4 linked regions of the Homo sapiens genome follow. The protein of the gene in region 1 purifies or fractionates together with the protein of each later gene. This does not show direct contact. Each region holds a gene or a part of one and is shown in the gene's direction. Other genes may lie near its edges. The genes, in order: EXOC5, EXOC1, EXOC3 and EXOC7.

What was found.
Region 2: the proteins of EXOC5 (region 1) and EXOC1 purify together in Homo sapiens (affinity purification with mass spectrometry; 5 studies listed by BioGRID and IntAct, with this or other methods). This does not show direct contact.
Region 3: the proteins of EXOC5 (region 1) and EXOC3 purify together in Homo sapiens (affinity purification with mass spectrometry; 8 studies listed by BioGRID and IntAct, with this or other methods). This does not show direct contact.
Region 4: the proteins of EXOC5 (region 1) and EXOC7 fractionate together in Homo sapiens (co-fractionation; 4 studies listed by BioGRID and IntAct, with this or other methods). This does not show direct contact.

What each region holds. Positions count from the first base shown.
Region 1 is NC_000014.9:57,202,902-57,209,929, reverse strand, and holds part of EXOC5 (exocyst complex component 5), read left to right. Parts: intron 1-147; coding exon 148-363; intron 364-1,132; coding exon 1,133-1,321; 3' UTR 1,322-7,028. UniProt on the Homo sapiens protein: Component of the exocyst complex involved in the docking of exocytic vesicles with fusion sites on the plasma membrane.
Region 2 is NC_000004.12:55,870,645-55,877,672, forward strand, and holds part of EXOC1 (exocyst complex component 1), read left to right. Parts: intron 1-33; coding exon 34-261; intron 262-456; coding exon 457-589; intron 590-1,204; coding exon 1,205-1,314; intron 1,315-2,110; coding exon of another isoform or gene 2,111-2,164; intron 2,165-7,028.
Region 3 is NC_000005.10:446,160-453,187, forward strand, and holds part of EXOC3 (exocyst complex component 3), read left to right. Parts: 5' UTR 1-46; coding exon 47-190; intron 191-661; exon of another isoform or gene 662-1,049; intron 1,050-1,179; exon of another isoform or gene 1,180-1,233; intron 1,234-1,373; coding exon 1,374-1,593; intron 1,594-7,028. UniProt on the Homo sapiens protein: Component of the exocyst complex involved in the docking of exocytic vesicles with fusion sites on the plasma membrane.
Region 4 is NC_000017.11:76,080,516-76,086,815, reverse strand, and holds the end of EXOC7 (exocyst complex component 7), read left to right. Parts: intron 1-670; coding exon 671-736; intron 737-1,018; coding exon 1,019-1,139; intron 1,140-1,406; coding exon 1,407-1,502; intron 1,503-2,235; coding exon 2,236-2,299; intron 2,300-2,526; coding exon 2,527-2,568; intron 2,569-2,676; coding exon 2,677-2,810; intron 2,811-3,065; coding exon 3,066-3,168; 3' UTR 3,169-4,162; coding exon of another isoform or gene 4,163-4,353; 3' UTR 4,354-4,766; coding exon of another isoform or gene 4,767-4,934; 3' UTR 4,935-5,060; coding exon of another isoform or gene 5,061-5,271; 3' UTR 5,272-5,413; coding exon of another isoform or gene 5,414-5,538; 3' UTR 5,539-5,800; downstream 5,801-6,300. Other genes in the region: ligand-gated cation channel ZACN precursor, read right to left, coding at 4,163-4,353, 4,767-4,934, 5,061-5,271, 5,414-5,538. UniProt on the Homo sapiens protein: Component of the exocyst complex involved in the docking of exocytic vesicles with fusion sites on the plasma membrane.

The sequences.
Region 1 (7,028 bases):
TAATACTTTGTTAACATTTTCATTGGTGTATCCTACTGTGCCCTAGATTTTTTTCTTTTATACTTAAAGATTAATGAGAAACTGTATTTCCTCTTTAGCTAAGCTGGTATACATTCCTGTGTAATGAGTGTAGAAAAACTTTTATAGGCCTGTGTAAAAGTCTGTGCTTACGTAAGAAAACAAGTGGAGAAGATTAAAAATTCCATGGATGGGAAGAATGTGGATACAGTTTTGATGGAACTTGGAGTACGTTTTCATCGACTTATCTATGAGCATCTTCAACAATATTCCTACAGTTGTATGGGTGGCATGTTGGCCATTTGTGATGTAGCCGAATATAGGAAGTGTGCCAAAGACTTCAAGGTATGTGTACACAAAAACATCAAACTTGCAAATAGGCCCAGGAGCATAAGTCAGATTATTAAAAATCACTATTTACTTATAATTAGTGAAAGGTTTATAACTTTTGTTGATATTGTATGAGATAGATTATCACATTCTACCTGAAACAGTGTTGTTCCAATTATTATTTTTTTTTATTTTAAATTTTAAATTTTTATTTATTTTTTTTCCAAAGAGTTTCATGATGTTGCCCAGGCTGGTCTCTTACTCCTGGGCTCAAGTGATCTGCTGCCTCAGCTTCCCAAAGTGCTGGGTTTACAGGAATGAGCCACCACATCTGGCCCATATATTTAATATTAAACCCATTTTTGCTTTATGGTGTATTTTCAGTTCCACAGTCTTTGACTTATTGACATCCATGACTAATGTTATATATGTCACACATTAGGAAAAAAATGTTGTCTTCATTTATGTCCCCCTGAATATTTCTGTAACATTTAAATTATGAAAAATGCTGTATGTTAATAACTAGTTTTAGTCCTCTGAAGTATATATGATTGTTACTATTGAAGAGAATTGACACATGAATCTTTTTGAAATATTATAGCAAGTTTATTTAACTACTGAAATCTTTAAGTTTTAATGCATTGTGATCTTTAAAAAATTCTAATATGTTGAACTTCACCCACACTAGTAAGTCCCACCTGACAGTATGTAAAAAGTTACAAGCTAATTGTAAAACTGGAAATTGTTTTGTTTCAATGTTACTTTTTTTCTTCTCTCAATTCAGATTCCAATGGTATTACATCTTTTTGATACTCTGCATGCTCTTTGCAATCTTCTGGTAGTTGCCCCAGATAATTTAAAGCAAGTCTGCTCAGGAGAACAACTTGCTAATCTGGACAAGAATATACTTCACTCCTTCGTACAACTTCGTGCTGATTATAGATCTGCCCGCCTTGCTCGACACTTCAGCTGAGATTGAATTTACAAAGGAATTCAGTGTCAGTTCCTTTACAGAGGAATGTCTTATACTTCAGCAGCCCTCGGTTGATAGAAAGCACAGGAGATACCTTATGACACAGCCAACATTTTGTGAAACAATGACTGGAACAAAACAGCAGCCATACTTACCTTTGAGGTTTTATTTAAAGTTTGGATACCACTAGCTATATTTTGCTTTTTTCCCCTCACATTGAATTTTAATTCCATTCTTGAATGTAGAAATTTCAGATTCTCTAAAACTACATGTCACTGTTTTTATCCTAGAAAATGTTGCTGTCAGAAGGCAAAGGAAATGTTACCAGTGTTTTCGGTTCTTGTACTTTTAACATATTCCATTTAGAAATTTTGCCATTCTGTTTTCCATTAATAATAGGTGAAATACAGGAAAACTACATTTGTTATTCCTCAGTTTTTAATGACCTTTTCAGCATCAATTGTTAATCAGATTATTTTAGGTTTTCGTAAATAATTTTTTTGCCTCTTTCAAAAGGTTAACAATTAAGCATACTTTCTGCAGTTGGTTGATTGGATTTTTTTCTGAGGTACAGCATTAATACTAGTCCAAAAAATGTCATAAACTGAACTAAAATGATGAACTATTTTATGTAGACATTAGGAGTGGATCGGAATACTTCTGCTTTCTGGGTAAAACTTAAAAGTTTACTATTTCTTATTTGGTAAATAGATTTTAAGCCAATTCTAGTAAGAAATTAATAAAACTACCTTATTTTGTATTTCACTTAAGGTGGAGGACCTTAACTAAAGGACCATATTTATTCATTATTTTAATATTATAAGGGAAGTAAAAAAAAGTGAGGTATAGTCTAAATGGTGCATATAGGAAATACTGACAGTGTTTAGCAACATGCAGCCCTTTGAGATTTCTGTCGTAATGCTAAACTTGAATAAGATGGAATGGCTGAACATGTGGTTAGTCTTTTATTTTAAGAAGAATTGAGAATTGATAGATTTGGAGATGAGCTTTGCAAAGGCTGTTTGCTTTTCATGTCTATAGGTCTGTCATTGTCCTTTTTCAAAGCATTTCTGAAGTTATTCCTACTTGGATATAGTTAATGGAATTGGCTTAATTTGATGACATAATAAATCACTTATAAAATTTTAAATATCAAGTGAAAATTTAGAAAGGCCATTACTATTCTATAAACCTTATAAACTTGCTCTGGGAGAATGCATTCTAAATTATATATAGTGTTTCAGCTCCCATTGTGGTGTTCATAGTCTTCTAGGAACAGATAAACTTAAGTATTCAATTCACTCTTGGCATTTTTTCTTTAATATAGGCTTTTTAGCCTATTTTTGGAAAACTGCTTTTCTTCTGAGAACCTTATTCTGAATGTCATCAACTTTACCAAACCTTCTAAGTCCAGAGCTAACTTAGTACTGTTTAAGTTACTATTGACTGAATTTTCTTCATTTTCTGTTTAGTCCAGTGTTACCAAGGTAAGCTGGGGAATGAAGTATACCAACTTCTTTCAGAGCATTTTAGGACATTATGGCAGCTTTAGAAGGCTGTCTTGTTTCTAGCCAAGGGAGAGCCAGCGCAGGTTTTGGATACTAGAGAAAGTCATTTGCTTGTACTATTGCCATTTTAGAAAGCTCTGATGTGAATTCAAATTTTACCTCTGTTACTTAAAGCCAACAATTTTAAGGCAGTAGTTTTACTGGCCATTTAAGCTCTTTGTACAGTGTCAATTTGTAAAAAAGAAAAAACGAAAAAAAATCTCAAATAAAACATGAGATAACATTTTAAGACTTCCAAATCAGAGAAGTGCTTCAAATTATTTTGTTTGGATTAATTTTTAAAATGTAAAGCATATACTTGTTGCTTAGTTATTTTGTTTATTATTTTCATGTTTGAGTTCTGTGCAATATTTTCTATTATGTCCGTTGATAGGACAGTGACAAAATTCGTAAGTGAATACTTAATTTAAAAGTGTTAACATTAATGCTCAATAAACAAATTCCCTGCAGTTGTTTTTTTTATTTCACTCTTTTTATATTTTAGAGCCATCCATCCTGAATTTTATAAATGATTTTTTATTTAAAAATTTGAGATTTTTAAAATTTTTCACAGCACAGGTCTTCTCATTTTCTTTTTTAGCAAAAAATACTTGACTATATAAACAAGACTAGAAATTTATCCTAAACAGATGGTCTTTCTCTGAGGGAAAAAAAAAAATGTGTCATGTGAGGCAATATGCATTCTTTGTATTCTGATTTTTTAAGTGTTTTCATATTTATAGCCATCACAAAATTTTGCCCAAAGTGTATGGCTCAGAAGAGATGATCAATAACTAAAATGTTTTTCGTTTTGCACATGGTAAAATTTTAGGTAGAGAGTGGAGCTTTGTATAATTGGTAACTTTAACCAACATTTACGTAAGTACGGTCTTTGCAGTATTACACAATACCGCATGAGCTAATATGCAGTATTTAGGTAATGCATTGAATGAAGTTGAAAATATGCTCTTAACACACTGTGCATTGTTTTTCTAAAATTGAGAAATATCTGAAATACAGAATACGAATTTAATAAAGGAAGCCTACCTTATGTAAATTATGATGTTGAAAATGACAGTCAACCAGAGTAGATGAAGTGTCCTTATGAAGAATTATTAAATAGTAGCTGGATGGATCTTTAGATGGATGACCACCTGACCATTCCAGGACAATTTTTGGTCCCATTTTGAGGATTGCCATAGTTGCAAGTCCTTAGGATCTTCCTTGTTTTAAAAAACTATCAAAGTAGGTTAAATTAAAATCTAATTTAAATTAGGTTAATTTATATTACATTGTAGATCATTCTTTTTTCCCCCCTCTTTCACTTCTAAATATTTTGCTTTCTAAATACTAGCCTTCTGGTTCACAGTGAAATAATTTAATTATCAATCAGTAGATTGATTCCAAGTGGAGAATTCACTGCTTCCCTAAAATGCGTTTTTCTTACCTGTAATGGTGAATATTTACAAGGATCTGGATAAAGAGATTTTGATTTTTGAAATGCCACAAAACCCCTTAAAGTGGTCAAGTACCTAAGGTAGTGGCTAAGGCATGCTTGAACTGTGTTTGAGAGACAGCAGTTCAGTCAGTACATAATTTGTTGGTGACTAACAAAGCTCACATCTGGGAGATTAACTTTTTTTAACGCAAAAATATTCTGCACATTACCCATATATTGTTGAATTTTACATACAAAGCATTTTGTGCTTTCATTCAATTAGTTTAACTATATTCAGTTTCTGTATTATTTCTCTCTGATCTATCCTGTAATTATTCTATACTTTAGAAGAAAAGATCAGTTCATATTGTTAGACTGAATAATTCTACATGAAGTTAAAAGTTAGCAATTTAAAAAATTTTGCTGCATAATAAAGATAATTATAGTTACATGTATTGATTTAAGTCTCACACACTGTGCTAATAAGTCCTTTGCACATATTATTGGATTCTAGAGCAACCCTAGGATTTGGGTACTATTATTTCCATTTGACAGATGAAAAACCTAATGCATAGAAAGATAAGTAGACCAGTCAAGGTCTACAGCTAGTAAAATGCTCAGATTGAAACCTAAATCTTTTCTCACTCACTTTTAGGTTCTATATGCTATTCTCCTTACGTAACGTTAAATAGATCCTTTAGTTTGATAGGTTCATTAGTTTTGCTTAATCGTTGCTTCCAATATGATTCTTATTGTAGTATTTATATTACAAAGTTGGCATACAGGGTCAATATCTAATTTACTGTTGTGTTTTTCTTAATATGTTCAATGTATGGTCATACTTTTTAAATTTGATTTTTTAAATATTATAAGTGGTCATGAAATTTTAATGTTAAGTTTGTACCTAATAGAAATATGTCTATCACAAATCTTTATTGGTATTATTTTATATACTTTTCCAGCTTGATAATTTTCACAATAGAAAGAGACCAAATATTTTGTACTATATTTTGTGACATAGAAGTAAATGACAACTCTACCTTGGAAGATATGAAGAAATCAGTGTTTTTATGTTCAAAAACTATTTTAAATGTCATAGGCTTGCCAATTGTGTTAACTATTTAGTACATTGGTAGTTTTTAAATGACTAATGCTGGAGTGAAAATGTAAGGCAAAATATTTAGTATATTAACAGTAGATAGTCATTTTCATGTAATCAGAATTGCATGTTAAGGGTTTTAAAAGCTGTCATAACTCTTACCTTTTATTTCTACCAGTGATCAATCATTTCTCTTTACAAATTTAGGGAGGAAACAACTGTTCAAATGTATAGGGGACAGAAACCTGACATTTAGAGAACAGAAATTTTAATTGCCAAATTAAAGCAGCTAGGCTGCCCCTGGGCTTAACAAAATTCCTATTTTTGAACTAGACCCGAGGTATTTTATCATTATTATTTGATAGGTACCATTAACCTTTGTTTTGTGATTATCGACTTTTGGGGGGAAAGATGAGTAATTAAACACACTCGCCCATTTTCTAAGTGGTTTAGAAGGTTGCAGTCTGCCTCACCATACAAAGCCAGTTTAAATAGGAATATATCACATCATACTTCACATAGCAGTCAACCTCAGAGGAAAGTCATTTATTCAGAAGGCATAGATTTTGCTAGACAGCAGTGATGCATTACAAATATATAATTATTTGCACTAATATTTGAGCAGGTGGAATGGATTAGAACATGGTCAACATCATGCTGCTGATAACATGTATTTTTCTATATTAATATGTACTGTGCAACATGTATTAAAATTGTCAATAATTCATTTTAGCCAAGATACTAATATTTATATTACTGTGTTTAAGAGACAGTATCCAACTGAGCCACTTTTAATTTAAAAGTCTGAAACTGGAATTAAGTTTACTTTCAAAAATCACTTAAATTACTTTATAATCAGTGAAAGGTCAGTAAAATGTAGAATTATAAGTGCCTAGTGACTTAATAGGAGGAAATATGGAGGGTTAAGGAAGGAAGTAGGAACCTGGAATAAGAAAGCTAAGTTTCATTTATAGTTCCAATGAGTGACTTTCTTTGTTTTCACCACTGGGAATCTTAAATGAAGAAAGTGTCGTATCCCTTCCAGTTATCTTTATGTTAATAAACTAAGTGAAGTTTGGATAGAACTAACAAAGGAATTAGTCTCCATTGGTGGACTTCCAGAGTTTTGAGATTAAACTTTGAGAGGTGAGAAGCCTTCCTGATGCCCCTGTAATCTTAAATTGGCAGGTGCCTCTAAGTGAGGCCATCCCTCTTTGCCTGCCTATCATTTTAATCTTTATACTGTAACTGGTTCCTTTCAACTCTGGCCTTTTATTGTAGCACTTTTATCAAGTCTGCAGCTTCCCAGCTACTTGGGAGGCTGAGGTGGGAAGAACACTTGAAGCTAGGAGTTCAAGACCACTCTGGGCAACATAGTGAGTCCCTGTTTTTAGAAAAATAAATAACCTTTAGGTTTTTGCTATAGAAAATATCCAAATAGAGTCTGGACAATGCTGGATGTAAAGAAAACTGTGAAGCTACCTCTAAGCATATTGTTTGTGAATACTGTGTACCATTTAGAGGATAACATGGGGGATTCACATGAAGTTATGTGAAAATATTTTATAAGGAATAATACCTAAGTGCCTCTCTTAAGTTCTCCAGTAGAATGTATTTTCAATT
Region 2 (7,028 bases), on another chromosome or scaffold:
TTTGTTTGTTTGTTTTGGTCTTTAACTTTGTAGGCTAACATCCAGTCAATCATGGCATCTGAAAAACAAGTCAACATCCTGATGAAATTGCTAGATGAGGCTCTAAAGGAGGTAGATCAGATTGAATTGAAACTGAGCAGTTATGAGGAAATGCTCCAAAGTGTAAAAGAACAAATGGATCAGATCTCTGAAAGCAACCACCTAATTCATCTTAGTAACACTAATAATGTAAAACTCCTATCTGAGATAGAGTTCCTTGTGGTAAGTATGATCATAAATTACCAACAAAAAAAAACTAGTGATGATATATAAAACCCATTTGTAAACATTTTTTAATTTCCTTGTGAGAACAGGATTTAAAATAATTCCAAAGACCTAATGATAGGACTGAATAGCATCTTGCCTGTAAATTTCCCAAAATTACACATGCAAATGGTGTGTTTGCATATATTCTAGAACCACATGGACTTGGCCAAAGGTCATATAAAGGCCCTTCAGGAAGGAGATCTTGCTTCTTCCAGAGGCATTGAGGCCTGCACCAATGCTGCTGATGCCCTTCTGCAGTGCATGAATGTAGCTCTTCGACCAGGTATGTTCATTAGAAATGACAAAAATGTGACCAAGAATGTGAGACTAAGCCTGTAACTTGTTATAAAGGTTTTGACAAGAAATACATGAGACAAGTGGTTTAAGGGTTACATTATTAGCTATTCAAGTTTCACTGATTTCCCAACTTATTTCTATTGATACTAGGAACTTTTTTACTTCAGTTCCTCCTTCTAATTGTCCTCAATGACTATAGTCAACACCATGATCTTTATTTAGTACTATCCACAGAACCCAGCAGAAAGTAGGTGCTTTGGTTAGACGAGAGCAATTATTTCAAAACTTGAGTGTCCGTCAGAATCCCTAGAGGTCTTGTTAAAAACATAGATTGCCTGGCCCCAGTCCCAGATTCAGCAGATCTGGGCTGAGATTTTAGAATCCACATTTCTAACAGTTCCCAGGCGATGGTGAGGCAAGACCACACTTTGAGAACTACTGTGAAATCCCATTTTTCTCCTGCTTAACTTTTATCATGTAAATGAATACACCCATAAAACTTTTGGGTTCTTCAAAACGTTAGATACGTTTAATGTTCCATTAAACATCAAGGAAATCTTTTTACCCATTAAACTGGTCACAAAATGTCGTTCTGTGTCAGGCCATGACTTGCTTCTGGCAGTCAAACAGCAACAGCAGCGATTCAGTGATTTGCGAGAGCTTTTTGCCCGGAGACTGGCCAGTCACCTCAACAATGTTTTTGTTCAACAGGTAATTTTATTTTATTATTAAAACGAGCATGTTCCTATAGCTTATTTATGTATTAACCTTACATTTCCACAAAAATGTTAATATGTTTAATTGGGGTTGCAGTCAATTCCTTCACATATTTGATTTTAAGATTTTGAAATAGGAGCCTCTTTGCTCATAGATGTACTTTGGGCCTCAGCTGCCTCTTTTGGTAGACAGTCTAGTTCCTTTCAGCTGATGCTCTCTGATTCTAGAAATCAAATAACTATGCATATGAATTGCATATACTACTTAGATATTTTTATTTATAAAGTAAGTCCAAACTTGTTAGATATTTACTATTGGACCTGTTTTATTTTTCAGTATTTTGAGGTGAGACTCAGGACTTGATTCAGTGTTTTAAATGTTTTGTAAGTTCTATGTACTTAGTACATAGTATAATTGTTAAGAAAATGACTAGCTCAACTGCAAATTTCAGTTGATCTAATCTTCATATAAATGCTTTACCTATATTTTTATATGGAAAAGGATGTTATAATTAAGAGTGTGGTAATAATATTGTTATTAATAATATTAAGAGTACCTTTGAGGGATTTGAATAAAAGCCATTTTAATATCTAATACAATAAATTAGGTTTCTTATTTTTTCATCTCTTTTAAAAGTCCCTTTTATTTTATTAGAGTTATAGAATGAAAAAAAATTGGGGGAATATCTCGTTCATCAAGAAATACTGCCTGAAAACAATGGATTTTTACTTTATTTTCACTTTGCAATATTCTAAAACAATTGTATTTACTATATTTTATTTCCAATTAGTTTACTCAGGCCCTCCTTCAACTCTATAACAGGTCCTACTTTCTTTCGGTTCCTGTGAGTACATCAAATTTGGCTCAAGCTTCTCTGATTCTGTTTTTTTTTTTCTATAAAGTTTGCTAAACTTAACAGCAGCCGAATCTTTACAGATTATAACTTACTGATTTAAGCTACCTGTTAACCACATTCGTAGCAGTTTTTAAATGTCCCATAGTAGAGACTATTTTGGCCAAAAAAGCATTTAATCTCATTCTGCTTGCTTTTCTTTCTGTCATTTTTTCACTCCATTTAGTAATAAATAGTAATATTACTCCTTCATTTAGTAATAGTAGTAATATTAATCCTTCATTTATTTAGTATTGCCAGGTGATTGAGGTACATACCAGACATTAACTTGGGATAAATGAGAGACCAATCCTGTCCTCTAGTAGTTCACAGTCTAGGGAAGCGAGACAAACAAATAATATACTCAAGAGGGATAAATGTTATGACAGCGAGACTGTGGGAGTGTAAAGGAAGACCACCTAACTAAAAGCACGGTAGGGGGGAATCAGAGAGATTCCCTTAACATTCCACTTGACTGAAAAGTGTCGAGAAAAAAGTAAGCTTAAATGTCACATAGGAAATACTAATTCATGTTTTTGTTAGGTACTTACTTCAATAACATCTATTTCTATACAATTCCTTAGTTTTTAAAAATGACACTGTTGACAATTATGTTATCCACATTTGTTAGATAGTATTGAAAATACCAGCCAGTAAACAATAGTCTTTTCTGTACCCTTAACTGTTTGTTGTAACATGCAGTTATTTATGATTTTGCTTCTTGCCTTGTAAACTAATGGCCTCGTTTAAAATGAATGCTTCCCATTTCTGAAAAGCTGATATGTGTTATTACATGTGAGTGATGCATGTTAAAAATCAGAACGCTGCGACAACCTGGGGTGTGCCAAAAACGGTGGAAGAAGATATCCCACACATAAGAAAGATTTTCTTAGTGTTGCATTCAGTGCATCAGGTCACCTAGCAAAATTGTTGAGAAACATGGGTATTTCTATTCCTGGTAGGGAGACAAGCTGGGAAAATTGATTAAAATAATATGGTACACCTCTTTGGCAATCACAGAATTTTCATTGTATGCTTATTATGTACTCACTGTCTACCATATATAAGAATAAGCAATAGTTCCTACCCTCAAGATGCTTGTAAGAAGGAATTAAAACTAATGTACTTACTCTTTGTAAGGAGTTAAGACTAATGTACATTAGCAATGTATGTAATAAATTGCTAATTGTAGAACTGTGGACTGTAAGTGCTAAAAAGGTTTAATCAAAAGTGAGTTTATTGAGAATTTAAGGAGTGAGATATGGAAGGAATTGCAGATAAGGTAGGACTTGAACGAGTCCATGCAATACAGTTTATAGCAAATGTATAGTTACAACATTTACAAATATTGTACTGAAGAATCCAGTGAAAATAATCTATTCACAATATAACAGTAATTTCAAAGCATTGATTCTCAGTCTTTTTAAAATTCACAAATTAGTAAAATTAAAAGAAATAAAATTCGGAGACTGACCAAATCACCAATTTTTTTATTTTACCAAATAAAGACCTTTAAAAAGAAATACTATTATCCACTTTCATTATCTTTTCATTTTAAAAATGACATTTTGGCACTAAAAGAATAAGAATTTCCTTTCCGATTTTAAAAATTAATACATTTACCCTTATGAAGGACTCACTTCTTTCATTGTACTTTTTCTTATTGCTATAGGCCAGGAAAAACATCTTGCATTTGGGAATGACTGATCCAGAGCATGCTATCTGTAATGCAACTTTCCTATTAATACTTCTGTGTTATCTATACTTAAGTGAAACTTGAAGTGTATTTTAATATAATAATCACTGTAATATAATATGAGAGTAATGTTACATAAAGAGTAGTTAGCTTCTTTTAGATCTTTCAGATCTTACACACTCAACTTCCCCTGAAATTATAGGCTCTTGCCCATAATTTTTACATTTACTAGGGATTTCTGTATCTAGAAAGATCAAGAATGAGAATCTGGTCAGTTTACACTAATTAGGATTATGATATTGAAAACAGTCAAATTAAGGCTAATGAAATTGAGGAAATATTTGCATAAAGAATATGTCCTTTAAAAAATTGTTTTGGTTGTTTTTTGAAAGATTTATTTTGATAACTACTCTCTGCCTTTTGTTTCCCCCTTTGGTTCTACAGAGACCTCATGATTCTATCTACTTTTGCCTTTAGCAACATGATGAGACTGATTATGTACATAACTTAGAGAAAATGAAAATAAACTGAAATGCACTGAACTAAAAGTACAACCAGGAAAAAACTGAAGTTGTGGAACTTTTTACCATATGCTTAAGTTTAGAAATTTTTCTCTCAACATACATATACAGAAACAAGCTATAATAAAATAAAACCTGTATTGCAGACCACCAGCATTCAATTTCTTTTACAAAAATTGTTTCCTTAAGCATATTTGTAAACACGGATTGATGATCTCTGGTTAAAAGCTTAGAAAGACTTGTGATTAAGATCTATTTTTGTGAGGTTTGTTGGAACTTTGCTCAGATTTTTTTTTTAAGAAAAGAATAAGTAAGTATGCCATAACAGAAAGAAGGAGTTCCAAATCTTGAAAATTTATTCAAATTTTGACCCCAATGTATCATTTCTTTAAAAAAGTCACTATAGCAAAGTGCTTAAGAGTGCAGACACTAGAGCCAAACTTCCTGGGTTCAAAATCCTGACTCTCCTACCTCCTAGCTGGGTTACCTTGAACAAGTTAATTGACATTTGTGCCTGAGTAAACAGTAGTAGAAGAACATAGACAATAATTTTGAGTCTTGAATCATTGAGAAAAATTAATGAGGAAGATTGTTTTGGATAACGATACATTGTTACTAATAAAAACTATTTGGTAAACATTTGTATGATATAAGTCTGTCAAATATTCTTCCCCTTTAATCAGCGTGACCAATTAAGGCACATAGTTTAGGCCAGGCGCAGTGGCTCACACCTGTAATTCCAGCACTTTGGGAGGCTGAAGTGGGCCAATAACTTGAGCCCAGGAGTTTGGGGGCAACCTGGGCAGCATAGTAAGACTCCATCTCTATTAATAAAAATAAATTTTTAAAAAATAAAACACAATTTGGAGACATTTATAGACCTAAAACTATAATATCTATATCTGGCTAGTATCTAATACATGTGATGCTGTAGAATCCTGATTATCCTTCTGGCATCTTGGTTAGAAAACATTTCTGTAATAGAATGTTTATATTGACCTTTGGCAACATAGAAATAGATAATAGTCCAATGGTAATGCCTGTGTATTTTACTTAATATTATTGATTTTGTTCATCTTTATTGTTAGCCCTTACAGAAAAGATATGGTAGCCCAGGCATTCTAAAAATACAGAATTGTTCCATTCTTCAACACTTTAGCTCTTAGTCCTCATTGATTCTTTTGGAAGATGTGATTGTTTTATATTCAGGTAGCCACCCAGAAAAGAATATCCACATAGGTCTACGCTCCGTTATCCAGAATTCTGGGGGTCAGGAGTGTTTTTAGAATGTTTCAGATTTTAGAAAAGCAATACAGTATATATACTGTATATTATATAATCACTCCAAGCACATGTTTTTGCAACAAAAAATATGAATAGTCACTCTAAGCACTATAAATAGGCCCATGTCAGTTCAGGTCACATTTTACCATCAAAATTGTTTTGGTGCCAAGCTTAGTCTGAGTTTTCAGAGCTTTTTGGCTGTCAGAATTACAGAAAGGGATTATGGACCTATTAATATACCTTGTGTATAACATCTGTGGTAGCTGTGAACTTCTGTTGCCCCTGTGTTCTAGTTCTTGTTATTTTGAACTGGTCAGTTTCATTTTGTGATATTTTTCTGCCATCTCTAGTTCAGTTTCCCAAGTTAACCTAAGTAGATATCAGTAAGATGAATCTGAGAAGTGTATTGGTTGTTTTCTACCATTTTATATGTAATTTCTGTATAATGGGTCCTTTTTTCTTTTTAATTTCCATTTTAAATTGGGATATATTCTCACATGAAGAAAATTTTCCAACAGACTGATTTGAAAACATTTATGAAGAAGGGACATGGATAATGATGTGGGTTTTTGTACTTGGCATGTCTTATACTCCCATCTTTCTTTCTCAGTTACCAAGGAACTCCTCATTTCCTCTAGGCCAGAAATGTTTCCTTCTGAATAGTCTGTATTTAAAAGAAAATTTTTTAAAATTCATAACCACTAGGTTATTTTGTGTATATAGTACAGTATATAAATTAGGTGAAAGAAATCCCTTTTAACTTAAAAGAATTTAAATTCAGGACGCTTATTTAGCTAATGTGTACCAACTAGTATGATACACATTCATAATTAGCTTTAGGTAACCTTATCAGGAAATGAGTTAACTAGCTCCAAAACTCTAGCAGTCTGTGTAATTTTAATACAGTTTTCACAAAATGCTGACAAATAACTTCTGGCTATCTAGGCAAATTAGATTGAGTGAAAATTACATCAAATAAATCTGTCTTGGTTTGCCTTTTGCTTGTTGTTGGGAAATTGTATTTTCAATTTGAATCTGCTCCAAGACAGAAGTAAGACTCAGATGACCAAGGTTCCAATTCCAAGCTCTAAGACTTTATATTCTACTTTTTTTTATCTGTTGTTTTAAATATTACAAACTCTAATGGGAATACCATAAATGTAGACTGTTTTGAATGATTTCTCTATTTGTGTTTCTTAATTCAAGCTATATCAAGAAGGTCATTTGCTTGGTAAATTGTGAAATATGGTATGAGAGAGACAAGCTTCATTAAAACGTTCCATCTTCATTCCTTTAAAAGACGGAATGGGTAGTT
Region 3 (7,028 bases), on another chromosome or scaffold:
ACACCCCTAGCATGAACAGTGTGAGGATTCCACCAGCTTTTTCACCATGAAGGAGACAGACCGGGAGGCCGTTGCGACAGCAGTGCAAAGGGTTGCTGGGATGCTCCAGCGCCCGGACCAGCTGGACAAGGTGGAGCAGTATCGCAGGAGAGAAGCGCGGAAGAAGGCCTCCGTGGAGGCCAGATTGAAGGTGAGGCCACCTGCCCCACTCCCAGGATCTGTCTTGGGCTTCAGGTTCTTGCTTGACATCACCATGATGATTTTGCTAAACTAGCCTTTATGGTAATGTGCAAGGAGGCAGAGCTGGACTTTCTTGAGCAGTTACTTTCAGCAGTGTATTACCACTCAGTAGCTTTGCTTAGAAGACAGTGGGAATGGTGAAAACACCAAAGGAACAAGCTTTTAAACACCCTGAGGCCGGGTGCGGTGACTCATGCCTGTAATCCCAGCACCTCGGGGAGGCCGAGGCAGGCGGATCACCTGAGGTCAGGAGTTCAAGACCAGCCTGGTCAACATGGTGAAACCCTGTCTCTATGAAAATACAAAAATTAGCCAGGCATGATGGTTGACGCCTGTAATCCCAGCTACTTGGGAGGCTGAGGCAAGAGAATCGCTTGAACCCAGGAGGCAGAGGTTGCGGTGAGCCGAGATGGTGCCATTGCATTCCAGCCTGGGCAACAGAGTGAGACTCTGTCTCAAAAAGAAAAAAAAAACACAGAAACAAAAACAACACCCTGAAAGTGTCTATTAAGTTTTTAAACAATACTGGAGGAAGGAGAAGTAGTCTTATTTAAAGCTCTTCTACAGAGCACCACTAGAGGGCATTTTGTTCAGATTGTTTTAACTCACATTTGACAGAGAGCGGATCTGAAGCTCAGGTGCCGATTCTGTCCTGTGGGTCAGCCGTCCTGGGGCCAAGTGTGGTGCTGGCTGAACAGCAGGAACTCCCCCACCCCAAGCCAGTGAAGTCCTGACCGTTCTCTCTGCCTAGACAAGACCTTTTAGGAACCTAGGATGCCTGGGAGAGCATGGGTGACATCCTTCTGAAGGTACCGTAGCAGGCCACGGCCCAGGGCAGACCCGTGGTAGTGTCCAGGATCACCAGGTGTGAGGCTAGATGAGGAGTGTCCTGACCTTTTCTCATCAAGGCTTTAAAATGCATCATTGTTCTGTTCCCAGGCAGCAATGAAGAAAAAGGTACACTGTGAATCAATTAAATCCTTGTTGATTTTATTTTCTTTTCTGGGTATTGACTGTTTCCTGCTACTCAGTGGCTCTTTCCTGAACTTGACCCTCCTGGGGAAGATTTGTTCTTCAGGAGGCAGCGCATGGCTATCATTGGCTCTGCTCACCCGTGTGGCGTCTCTCTTTAGGCCGCCATCCAGTCACAGTTGGACGGGGTGCGCACAGGCCTCAGCCAGCTCCACAACGCCCTGAATGACGTCAAAGACATCCAGCAGTCGCTGGCAGACGTCAGCAAGGACTGGAGGCAGAGCATCAACACCATTGAGAGCCTCAAGGACGTCAAAGACGCCGTGGTGCAGCACAGCCAGCTCGCCGCAGCCGTGGAGAACCTCAAGAACATCTTCTCAGGTACCAGCCAGACGCCGAGGCACTTGCCCCCACTCACGCTGTCTTTGCATGACTCACTGAGTGCTCTGTGTGCAGTGTGCTTTGCAGCCCGCACTGTAGACCTGTAGACGGTAAGTGTGATTCTTGTCTGCTCAGCGTCTTTTTTTGAACGTGGATGGAAGTGATCAGCTGAGCATGTAAAGGCTAGGAGAAGGCTTGTAGTTCAGTGTCAGGACAGAGGCCCAGAAGCGGGCTGCCCAGCAAATGCAGTGTGGAGGGATTCCCTGGCTGAGTGTCGTTCCCTTGCTTGCGATGTGGCTGTTAGACTCTGTGAGTGCAGAAGAATGAAGACGCCGTGGCCCATGCTTAAAAGGAGCTGCAGGAGAAGCCACCCTGTGCATGGGACAGAGCAAGCAGATCCCAGAGCAGAAGGGTTGAGGCGAGCAGCAGCTCCCAGGCAGGAGGAGAAGCGTGTGTGCACAGGCCAGGGCAGAGGCGGGGCTGAGCGCCGTGGGGGAGTGACCCTTTCAGTCTTCTCCCTGAATGCCTCAGTTAGAAGGATGCCAAGGGCCCTGTAACCTGTCCCTGAACGGTGCCAGCTGGCCCTGGGTGGTGGCTCCCAGCATTTGTGTTCACAGTCTCCTCCTGCTTGCTGTGACAGGAGCTGCTTCCACAGCCTCATCCCTCCCCTTGGTCCCCGCTCTGTGTCAAGGTCAGCAGCATCCTTCCAGTCCCCAACTCAGAAGCCTTGGCAGGGTCTGATTCCTTCCCTTTCTTTGTTCCTGTCTCTGGCCTCTTGGCAAGTTCTTCCTGTTCCTCTACCAGACGTCTCTGCCCTGATGTCTGTATGACACTTCCCCATCCCCAGCCGTCACGTGCCCCAGCTCACCCTTCACAGTGGCTGTGCTGCATCATCTGTGACGCTGCTCGGCTCCTGAGGCCACGTGTGAATTGGCGCGGTTCTCCCCAGCTGCCCACAGCGCACCTTGGTAATCCGTGTCCCGTCCACCCTGTCCTCTCTGCCCTCCTCTCGTGCTTGCGGCTGCAGCATTGCCGAGCACCTTGTCCCGTTGCTTTGTGTGTGCCCTTCTTCCAGGGCATGATCCGTAGGGTCACATGTGTGGCTGCAGTCCGTGTCTCTTTGTGCATGCCCAACACGAACGCCACTGTGCTGCCAACTCAGAAAGCAGCTCTTCTTGGTGACTGTGGGCCGCCTGGAACAGGAATAAAGTCCTCTCGACGGAGTCTCCTTGGTGATGCTCAGCTGGCAGCTTTCTAGTTAATTTCCTCTTATTTCGTATTGGCTGGCTACATTTCCTTCCGGTCTTTTAAACTAATGCCTGATGACCAAAAAGGTGCATTACTGGAATTAGTTTATCCACAGCAGTTGAAAATAATTTCCTTTCCTTGGTGAACAAATGAGCCTGCGTGGTATGCATGTTTTTTGTTACGGATAAATTTTCATTGAGAAGATTGGTTTGGTTGCCTTCAGACTTGTCTCATTGCCTATAACTCAGCAATGCTGTGTACACAGCTCCCCTCCCCCATTTTTTCTTCTTCTAAAATGCATATGTACAGTTTGCCGTCTTAACCATTTTTAAGTGTACAGTTGGGGACTATTAAGAACATTCATATTGTTGTGCAACCATTGCCACATCCGTCTTCAGAACTCTTTTCATCTTGCAGACATGAAAATCTGTACCCATTAAACACTGACTTCGCACCCTCTGCCCCAGCTCCTGGTCACCACCATTCTGCCTTCTGTCTCTGTGAATTGGATGACTCTGAAGACCTCATAGAAGTGGCATCACACATTATCTGTCTTTCTGTGACATGCTTATTTCACTCAGCATGATGTCCTCAGGGGTCTTCTATGCTGTGGTATTGTAGAATTTCCTTCACTTTTAAGGCTGAATAATATTCCATTGTATGGATGGACCACATTTTGCTTATCCGTTTGTCTGTTGGTGGACATTTGAATTGCTTCCACGTTTTAGCTATTGTGAATAATGCTGTAGTGAACATGGGTGTACAGATGTTTTACTTTTATTTCTTTCTGGTATATACACACAAGTGTAATTGCTGGACCATGTGGTAATTTATGTTTAAATCTTTGAGCAGCTGCCAGACTGTTTCCTCCGGTGGCTGCAGCATTTTCCACCATGAGTGTGTGAGGTTTCTGATTCGTCTGCATTTTCATTCTTCTCTTAGGTTTTTAAAAATATCCCTTATGGCTGGGTGCGGTGGCTCACGCCCGTCATCCCAGCACTTTGGAAGGCTGAGGCAGGCGGATCACCTGAGGTCAGGAGTTTGAGACCAGCCCGGCCAACATGGTGAAACCCCGTCTCTACTAAAAATATAAAAATTAGCCGGGCGTGGTGGCAGGCGCCTGTAATCCCAGCTACTCAGGAGGCTGAGGCAGGAGAATCACTTGAACCCAGGAGGCAGAGGTCACAGTGAGCCGAGATCGCACCACTGCACTCCAGCCAGGGGGACAAGAGCGAGACTTCATCTGAAAAACAAAACAAAACAAAACAAAAGTCCCTTATGTTTCCTTTTTTGCCCCATTAATTGTTTAAGAGTATGTTGTTTAATTTCCACAAATTGGTGAATTTTACAGTTTTCCTTCTGATACTGATTTCTAATGTCATCTGTTGAGTTTGGAGAAGATACTTTGTATGATATTTATCTTTTAAAAACCTGAGTCTTAATTTGAGGCCTAATCCATGGTCTTTCCTGAAGACTGTCCCATGTGCACGTGAGAATAGTGTGTGTTCTGTTGTTGGGTGTTCTTTCTGTGTCTGTTCAGTCTGGTTGGTTGGTTGCATTGTTCAAGTCCTCTCTTTCCTTGTTTAGCTTCTGTCTGCTTGTTCTGTCCATTATTGAGAGAGAGATATTGAAGCCTCCGACTATTACAGAACTGAATGTTTTTCCCTTCAGTTCTATCCATTTTTGCTTCATGTATTTTGACGGTCTGTTAGTAAATGCAGAAATATTTATAATTGTTACATCTTCTTGCTGAACCTTCTATTAATACATATGGCCTTCTTTGTGACTAGTTTTTTTTTTTTTAATTTAAAGTATATTTCATATTTATTAGTATAACCACTCCTGTTCTCTTTTGGTTATTATTTATATGGAATATCTTTTTCCACCCTTTTACTTTCAACCTATTTGTGTCTTGGGCTCTAAGGTCAGTCTCTGGTGAACACATAGAGTTGAATCATGTTTTATTTTTTAAATCTATTTTGTCTACCTCTTTTGATTGAAGATTTTAATTAATTTTGCCTACCTCTTTTGATGGAAGAGCTTACATTTAAGTGATTACTGATAAGAAGGGACTTCTGTCATTTTGCTGTTTGTTTTCTATATGCGGTATAACATTTTTGTCTCTTATTTCTGCATTTTTTTTGTGCTTTTGATTATTTTGGTAGTAAACATTTTAATTCCCTTGTTTCTTTTGCGTATATTCTATAGCTGTTTTCTTTGTGCCTACCATAAAGATTACACTTAACATCTAACATTATCTCGCTTCAGTTTGAATTTATATCAACTTAACTTCAATAACACACAAAAACCGTCCCTATATGGCTTCATCTCCACTCCCTTTGGGTTGTTCATTTCACAAAATTACATCTTTATATATCATGTGTCCAAAATCATAGACTAATAATTGTTTTTTAATGCATTCATTTTTAAAAATTAGGTAGAAAACAATGTGGAGTTAGAATCCAAAGTTACAGTATTAGTAGCTTTTAGACTATTTTTTAATGTATTAGTTTCTTTTTTATTTGTCCCTTTTAACCAGAACAAATATTAGTCTCTTAAGTCATGTACGAAACAGAGTGATGAGTTAAAAACTGAAGTGTTAATGATACTAGATTTTACGATTGTCCATGAATTTACCTTTTTTGAGGCCTTTGCTTCTTCACGTGGCTTCCAGTTGCTCTCTAGCATTCTTTCTTCTCAACCAGTGGGACTCTATTTAAGCATTTCTTGCAGGGCAGATCTTGTGGTAACAAGCTTTTCAGCTTTTGTTTATCTGGGGATGTCTTAATATCGCTCTCACTTTTGAATGACCATTTTGCTAGATTTAAGGTTCTTGGTTGACAGTATTTTTCTTTTAGCACTTTGAATATGTCATCCCACTGCCTCTGGCCTCCAAAGTTTCTGGTGAGAAATCTGATCTGCTCATAATCTTATTTTGGAGCCCTTGTTTCTGACAAGTTGCTGCTTTCAGAATTCTTTCAAAAGTTTGATTAAGTTGTATCTTAGTGTGGACCTCTGAGTTCCTCTTGCTTGGAGGTCATTGAGCTTCTTGGATCTTCATATTCATGTCTTTCATCAAATGTGGGGAGTTTTCACCTATTATTTCTTCAAATAATGTCTTGCCCATTTCTCTCTTCTCCTTCTAAAAGTCCCACTAAGCATATGTTGGCCTGCTTGATGATGTCCACAAGGTCCCTGAGGCTCTGTTCACTTTTCTTCAATCTTTTTTCTTTCTGTTCCGGATACTTGATATTTCCCATTGTCCTGTCTTCACATTCACTGATTCTTTCTTGCGCCTGTGCAGATCTGCCTTTGAATCCCTTTAGTGAATTTTTCATTTCATTTATTGTACTTTTCAGCTTCATATTTTCTGTTTGGTTTCCTTTTGGATTTTCTGTCTCATTATTGGTATTTCCATTTTGCTCATACATGTCTTTCTTCACATCTTTAAGTTCCTTAGGCATCTTTAAATCGTTGTTTTAAAGTCTTTCTCTAGTAGATCTGCCATCAGATCTTTTACAGGAACAGTTTCTTATGTTTTCCTTTGAATGGGCCATACTTTCTTCTTTCTTTGGGTGCCTTGTGATGTTTTTGTTGTTGAAAAATGGACACTTGAATCGAATAATGTGATAACTCTGGAAATCAGATCCCCTTCCCAGGTTGATGATTCTTGTTTTTGGTTGTTGTAGGCTCTCTGTGCCAAGGCACAGCCTGAGGTGTGAACTTCAAGGTCGTGTCAAGTCTTTTCTGAGCCTATGCCTTTGCCTGGGCATGCATTGGCCACTTCCGAATTTTTCCTATAAATGCAGTTACTTTTGAATGTCTTCATTCATAAATATCTGGCTTTCAAGAAGGGGAACAGATGAAGGGGGTGGTGAAGACATTGGCCCTTTAAATTCCCTGGAGCTCTGTGGGGGTGAGGAGGGACCTGTGAACAGGGGAAGATGCAACAGTGGCCACTTACCTCTTCGCACCTCTGTGGTCAGAAGCAGCAGTCAGTGATCTGAGTACAGATCTCCGGTGTGGAGGACAGGGTTCTTTTTGCCCAGCCAGGCTGCAGGCTGTGTGCAGGCAGCTTTAGGAACACATCAGCACATGCACAGCTGCCTGCGGGGTGGGAGGTGGGGCCTCGGTAGCCACTGCCCAGCTGAGAGCTGCAAATGACCACAGTTAACCACAGTTTACCA
Region 4 (6,300 bases), on another chromosome or scaffold:
GAAGCTTGGTGGGTGAGGTTCCCTGGGGACTGACTCTCAGTACCTACTGGGGAGCCTGAGTCAGAGGGGACATGAGTTTTCTCGGGGTGCTCTCAACTCTCTCTGCTCCCTTCAAGGCCACTCTGTCTCTGAGCTTATCCGCAGCACCTGCCCAGGCTAGAGCCCTGGATACACCCCCTAGGCTCGCCCGGCCTCCCTGCCTTGCTGTCCCCACTCGGCCTTCCCCACTGTGCAGGCCGCAGCTTCGTCTGTTCAGTAGGGTCTGGTAGAGGGGATGTTCGAATGTAGGGGAGAAGGTGGAGAGGCTGTGGGGAGCCCATTCTAAGACTCTGCTGTTGACAAAAGGAAAAAGGGGGCCTTGTAGAAACCACCCAGGGTGGGTGGGGGCAGGAGGGGACAGGGCGCTGGCATCTCACTCTTTTCCTGCCAGCTTTTCTGCTGACATGGGCCAGCTCCATCCCATCATAGAGGGCAGCTCTGGGTTCCAAAAACTCCAGGGCTGGTGCTTCCTGCGGCAGGGGCCACCCTGTGGCTTAGCAGGCAGCCAGCTCTGCCCAAGGAAGCCCAGGGCCTGTCTCAGTGTCCCCTCAGACTGCTGCATGGCCTGGGGGAAGGGCCGTTGAGGGTCTTGGCTGCTGCCACTGCAATAACAGGACTTCTCCTCTCACAGAGACCAGCTCTTCGGCCACCAGCTACAGCTCTGAGTTCAGCAAGCGGCTGCTAAGCACCTATATCTGTGAGTGTTCTCCCGGGCAGACCAGCAGCCCTGCTGCCTGCATGCCCTGCCTTTCCCTTCCTTCTGTCTGTGCTCTCTGGCTATTCCCAGGGCCCTCTCCTAAGTGCCATCTGATCTTTGGAACCACAACCTGACCTCTAGTTCAGAGGCTGAGGGGAGTTGGGCTAAGGCCTCCTGAGGCAGGACGAGGAGCGATGGATAGGAGCGCGTTCGCGGGTCCTGGGGTGGGGTCGTTTGGGTCAGACTGCCATGGTGGGTGTGGCCCCATTTTTCCCTGTGCAGGTAAAGTGCTGGGCAACCTGCAGTTGAACTTGCTGAGCAAGTCCAAGGTGTACGAGGACCCAGCTCTGAGCGCCATCTTCCTGCACAACAACTACAATTACATCCTCAAGTCCCTGGAGAAGTAAGTGGCCTGCGGGAGTGAGTCTGCGGCTCTCACCTTCCCCTCGGCTGTGCAGCTGTGCCAGCCCCTGCCCCCCTGGGCTCCTTCTCTTGTGGACGAGAGGGGAGGGGGTGCTTCAGTCTCCTCCACCCCAGGACCCGGAAGGTGGGATGCCATAGAGCTTGTGGAGTTTGGGGTGCAATGGGAGGCCCTCCCGGCATTGCCGCAGCCTTTGGGCCTGAGGAGCCAATCCTGTCCTCCTCTCCTCTGTCCCCTACCCCGACCCAGGTCTGAACTGATCCAGCTGGTGGCAGTGACACAGAAGACTGCTGAGCGCTCCTACCGGGAGCACATTGAGCAGCAGATCCAGACCTACCAGCGCAGGTGAGAGGCTGGGCCCGCCCTGCTCCTGCATGGGCCCCTGTGCCACCACGCACTCTTCCTTCTCAGCACCTCAGGACACAGAGTCGGTCACGGGGAACTCCTGTCCTCTGGACCCTAATCCTCCACTTGGTTTCTAATCAAACTCACGGGGTGGAGAGAGAAGCCCCCTCCTCTACCACTACCTGCTCCTAGGGGCCCACTATGGCCACTTTAGAGGGGAGTCTGCCAAGTGTCAAGGCTAAGAATGATTGAAGAGCTGGCTCTCAGAGACGTGGGTAATGTTTACCTAGGAGAAGAGCAAGGTCGCGAGAGCACTTGAACGTGGCTGAGCCTTGCTCTGTGAGGATCCCGCTGCTTCTCTGGTCCTCTTTCTTCCTGGCTTTGTTTCTTCCCTTTGAATGTGTCTACCTCTTCCTTCTCATTTATCTGCCCTCCACTCCTTTCTTTCTCATCTGTTTCTCCATCTTAGTTTGCCACGATATTGATGTGAAGTATAGTTGACAGTATTTGTCCAATTTATTGAACACTCAAGTGTTTCCTAATGTTATCTCAAAAAGTGACCAGTTTAAAGATTTTCTCTTCCCAGGAAGAAAACCTGTTGTTTGCTTAGTTGTGACCCACATCCCTTCCTACCACCACCCACCAAGTAGATCCAGAGATTTAGCAAACGAAACAAGCCAGGCCACTGAGGCAGGCCACCCTCTGCCCTCATGCTTCTCTTTCTGTCTGGCAGCTGGTTAAAGGTGACTGATTACATCGCAGAGAAGAATCTACCTGTGTTCCAGCCGGGAGTCAAGGTGGGCTCAAGACCTGGGCTGGGAAGGGGTGTCTGGCAGACGGGATACTTTTTGTCGTGTCTCTGGGAAAAAGTGGACAAGCATCCCTCTGGGATCAGAGAGCAAAGGATGCATGTGGCCATCAGGACACAGGAGACAGGCCCAGACCAAGGGTGTTTGGGGAAGAGTGGGGGAAGGCTGCTCTGCTCTGAAGTGAGCTTTCTCTGCTATCTCTCCTGGCTTCCCAGCTCCGGGACAAGGAGCGGCAGATTATCAAGGAGCGTTTTAAGGTGAGTCGGGGTCCTCTCCCCTCCACTGCTTGCTGCTGCTGTTGAGGCAACACAGACCCAAAATGTTTGTCTCTGGGTGCCTTCCTTTTTCACCTTTTTGGTGGCCAGGGCTTCAATGATGGCCTCGAAGAACTGTGCAAAATCCAGAAGGCCTGGGCTATTCCAGACACAGAGCAGAGGGACAGGATTCGCCAGGCCCAGAAGACCATTGTCAAGGAGACCTACGGGGCCTTTCTACAGAAGTGAGGCCTCCATTCCCCTCCCAGCCTGTGCTGCCCACAGCCCCAGTGGGCCTCTTCAAGCTCCTCTTCCTCAAGGGAAAAAGGAGAAGGGTGGTGGATTTAGGCAGCAGATCCAGCGACCTGGGCTTTGGGGCGGGGCCAGACAGGGAATCGCTCAGGGCCACCCCTTCCAAGACTATCAGGAGTGCCTTAGGCTGAGGGTGGAGCTGGGGAGGGGTCGGCCCTCCCTGTCCCCTGACCACAGTGCCTCCTCAGGTTTGGCAGCGTGCCCTTCACCAAGAACCCGGAGAAGTACATCAAGTACGGGGTGGAGCAGGTGGGCGACATGATCGATCGCCTTTTCGACACCTCTGCCTGAGCCTGCTGCTAGCCCTGCCTGGTTCCACCAGACTGGCGTGTCATTGGACAGATAAACCAGTGTTAGCTTGCCTCTGGGCTGGGTGAGCTTGAAGTCCTCTGGGACAGAGACCTGTCTCCACGCCTCCGGGAGCTGTGTCCCTGAGCCCCCTAGTCCTGGCTCCTGCTTTTTCCCCACAGCCCGTGTTCCCAGCCGAACCAGCACTCTCCCGGAAGCCTGGGGTCCCTCCACACCTTGGCTTTTATGACCCTGATGGCTTCTGAAACAGGAAAAGAGAGAAGGAAGACAGAGGCCTGTGCCCACTGCTGCTCCATGTGTACCAAGAGCAGCAGGGCAGAAGGGCCCTCCCTCCAGCCTAGGTCAGAGGTGGGGACAGAGAACTCCCCTACAGCCCAGAGATGTGGCAGGGCTCAGAGAAGCAGCCAGAGCTCCTGGAGGAAAGGCAGTCGGGACTGACCCCCTCTCTTAAAACACATTCCCGCCCGCCCACAGGCCTGAGGTCTGGGACCTTTCCCTCCCAGGAGTCCCCTAGGTGGCTGGGGGAGGCAGGCTCACTGGCCATTTTCCCTAGAGTCCAGCACACTGCAGGAGGCGTTCGGAGGAGGAGTTCCGCCCCACCCTCTACAGCCTTCCTCAGGCCCCTGTCTCTGGCCCCCAGCCTCAGTGCCTCTTGGCCCAGGGCCAGGCAGTCGTGGTTGCAGAAGGAGCAATTAGGCTGCCTGCCTGTGGGCTGGGAGACAGGGACAATGGGGAAAAGTTAAGGAGCAAAATGGGGGTTGGAAGCAAAAAATAGGGCCCCACCTATTTAGGACGAGATTGAAGACTGACCCTTGAGGCACACTTGCACTGGAGATGGGTTTATTTCACGCTCTGTGCTTGTGTGCTAGCGGAGGGAGAGCTCAGGGTGGCTTAATCCAGAGGCCCTGTCATGGCCCGCCCCCAGCCATGGGAAAGCAAACTTCATCCTAAGGTGTGCAGCCCAGGCCCTGCCCCTTTACAGTCTAGGCCGCCTGCCATGGGGTGCAGCCTCTCCAGGGGCTGCGTCAGACTTGCACGCTGCCCACATCCAGATTCCTGCAAAGACGAATTGGGTGCACAGCACCCCAACCACATACACGAGGAAGAAGATGCGGTCAGCAGTCTCAGGCCAGCTTCTCTGTGACCCCTTTACTCCTCTGGAGGGCTCTGTGGGGAGAGATACAGGGAAAGGAGCTGTTCTTCAAGGTCCCCTCAACATGAGCGGAAGAGCGAACCCCAGGGGTCATCAGCCTGTATCGCTTCCTTTCTTAGATTCTCAGCTGATGAAAATTTGGGTCTGGCCCATTTCAGGCCATCTTCAGTTGAAGAAACACCCTCTTAGGCTGTGCAAGGCATGGGTTATCAGGGGATTGAGGTCACCTGGGACTTCAGGGAGGCTCAGCTTGCTCCCTGCCCCAGACCTGTTTCTTCTAAGGGAGGAGGACATGGTGGAGACCAGGGACAGGAGAGCCAGCAGGGTGGATGCAAGGGGCCTCTACCCACACCTGGACCTCCGTGCCCTCACCCCAGCCCTAGGTGTGCACCTAGGCCTCATTCCTTACCCCCCAGCCCCTGCCCACCTTCAGCAGGATGAGGCCCTGGGTTGCCGTGCTCTCGCTGTTCCCCTCTCGGGGCTGGGCTGGGGCCGCTCTTGGCCCCAAGGTTGCCCCGGGCCAGCAGCCCAGCCAGCAGCACAGTCTCTATGGTGCTGAGGAAGAGCAGCAGCAGCAGGATGGTGAAGTAGTAAACTGGGGGAGGCAGGGCACAGGGAGATGCTCAGGGGCCAGTCCCTGTGTCTCTGGTGCCCAGCGAGCTGAGCACCAGTGGGTGACCGGGGAGAAACAGGGCAGACTGGGTAAGGGAGCAGGGCTTACTGAGCAGTGGGTTGCAGGAGGAGGAGCTGGGCAGGGCCTGCACCAGGGAGGAGTGGAGGACGAGGTAACTCAGCAGCAATGTCACCTTGTAGCCTATGCGCTCAATGGCCCGGAGGGGCAGCAACCCCCCGCACACGTCAGCCAACAGCAGTGCCTCTGCAGGCACCAAGAGAGCGATGATGGACTTGAGCGCCGTGTTCTTCAGCCTCAGCTGGAAGGGGAAAAGTCAGGGCCTTCCCGGCGGGGGGGAAGGAGGTGGGCATCGGGGGCATGGGGCCTGGCCTCTGGCCGTGCATCCTCACTCCCACCCGCCTCCAGCAGCCCTCTGTCGGCCTCCTCCCGACTTGACTCACCGTCACCTGGAAGCAGGGCACCAGCTGCTGGGGTGGGACTTGGGTCTTCAGATCATAAACTACGTATTCCCTCTTGACACTCACAATCTCGTTCACCACGTGGGCCTGGAACTCTAACTCCATCGCTGAGGGGTGGGAATGAGAACTATGAACCAGGAAGGAGAGATCCCAGCTGCCAAGTCTGGGGGTAGCAGACTGGAGCCCAGGGGTGATGGAGACTTTTGATGGCTTTTGGCAGGGACAGACTTGGACACAAAACCGATCCATAGAAGGGCTTCCCAAACCTTGTTTTGCAACATCCCAAATTGTCTCCAGTTGAAGGAAGGCCTTTATCAGATTCATAGATGAGCTTTCATTGTAAAAATAAATGTACTTTGCACCACTTCATGATGGAGGGAGAAGTGGTCACAGGCTCGTCAGTCTATCATCTCACAGCTGAAGCAGGATCCCCAGGGCTACCGCTGTGGTCTCTCATGGAGGGAAGGGTAGGACTTCTCTGCCAAGTTAGATGTCACCTGATGGGTTTATACAGGGTGGCTGCACCTTCAGGTGGTTTCCAGGAGTGAGGCCATGGCAACCTGAGCCTCTGGCCTTGCTGCAAGGGGCCGAGCCACTGCAGTCGCCATGGCTGTGGAGGGCAGTTGCTCTGGGGAGGACAGAAGACTGATGTGCTCGGACCTCTGGGATTGCAGAGCTGCTGCGAATGTTTGAGTCTGTCACCCTAGAGAGGGGCCCTGAGGCTACCGCTGAGCACAGAGATGGGCTGCCACTCGAGTGGGGGGCGCAGTGGGAGAGCAGGTGCTGCCCGCCTAAGCCTGGGGTAGACTGCTCTGAACACAGACCTGGGAGTTCGCCTTCTGTCTGCCTTTGCCCCTTCCCCTTGCCCC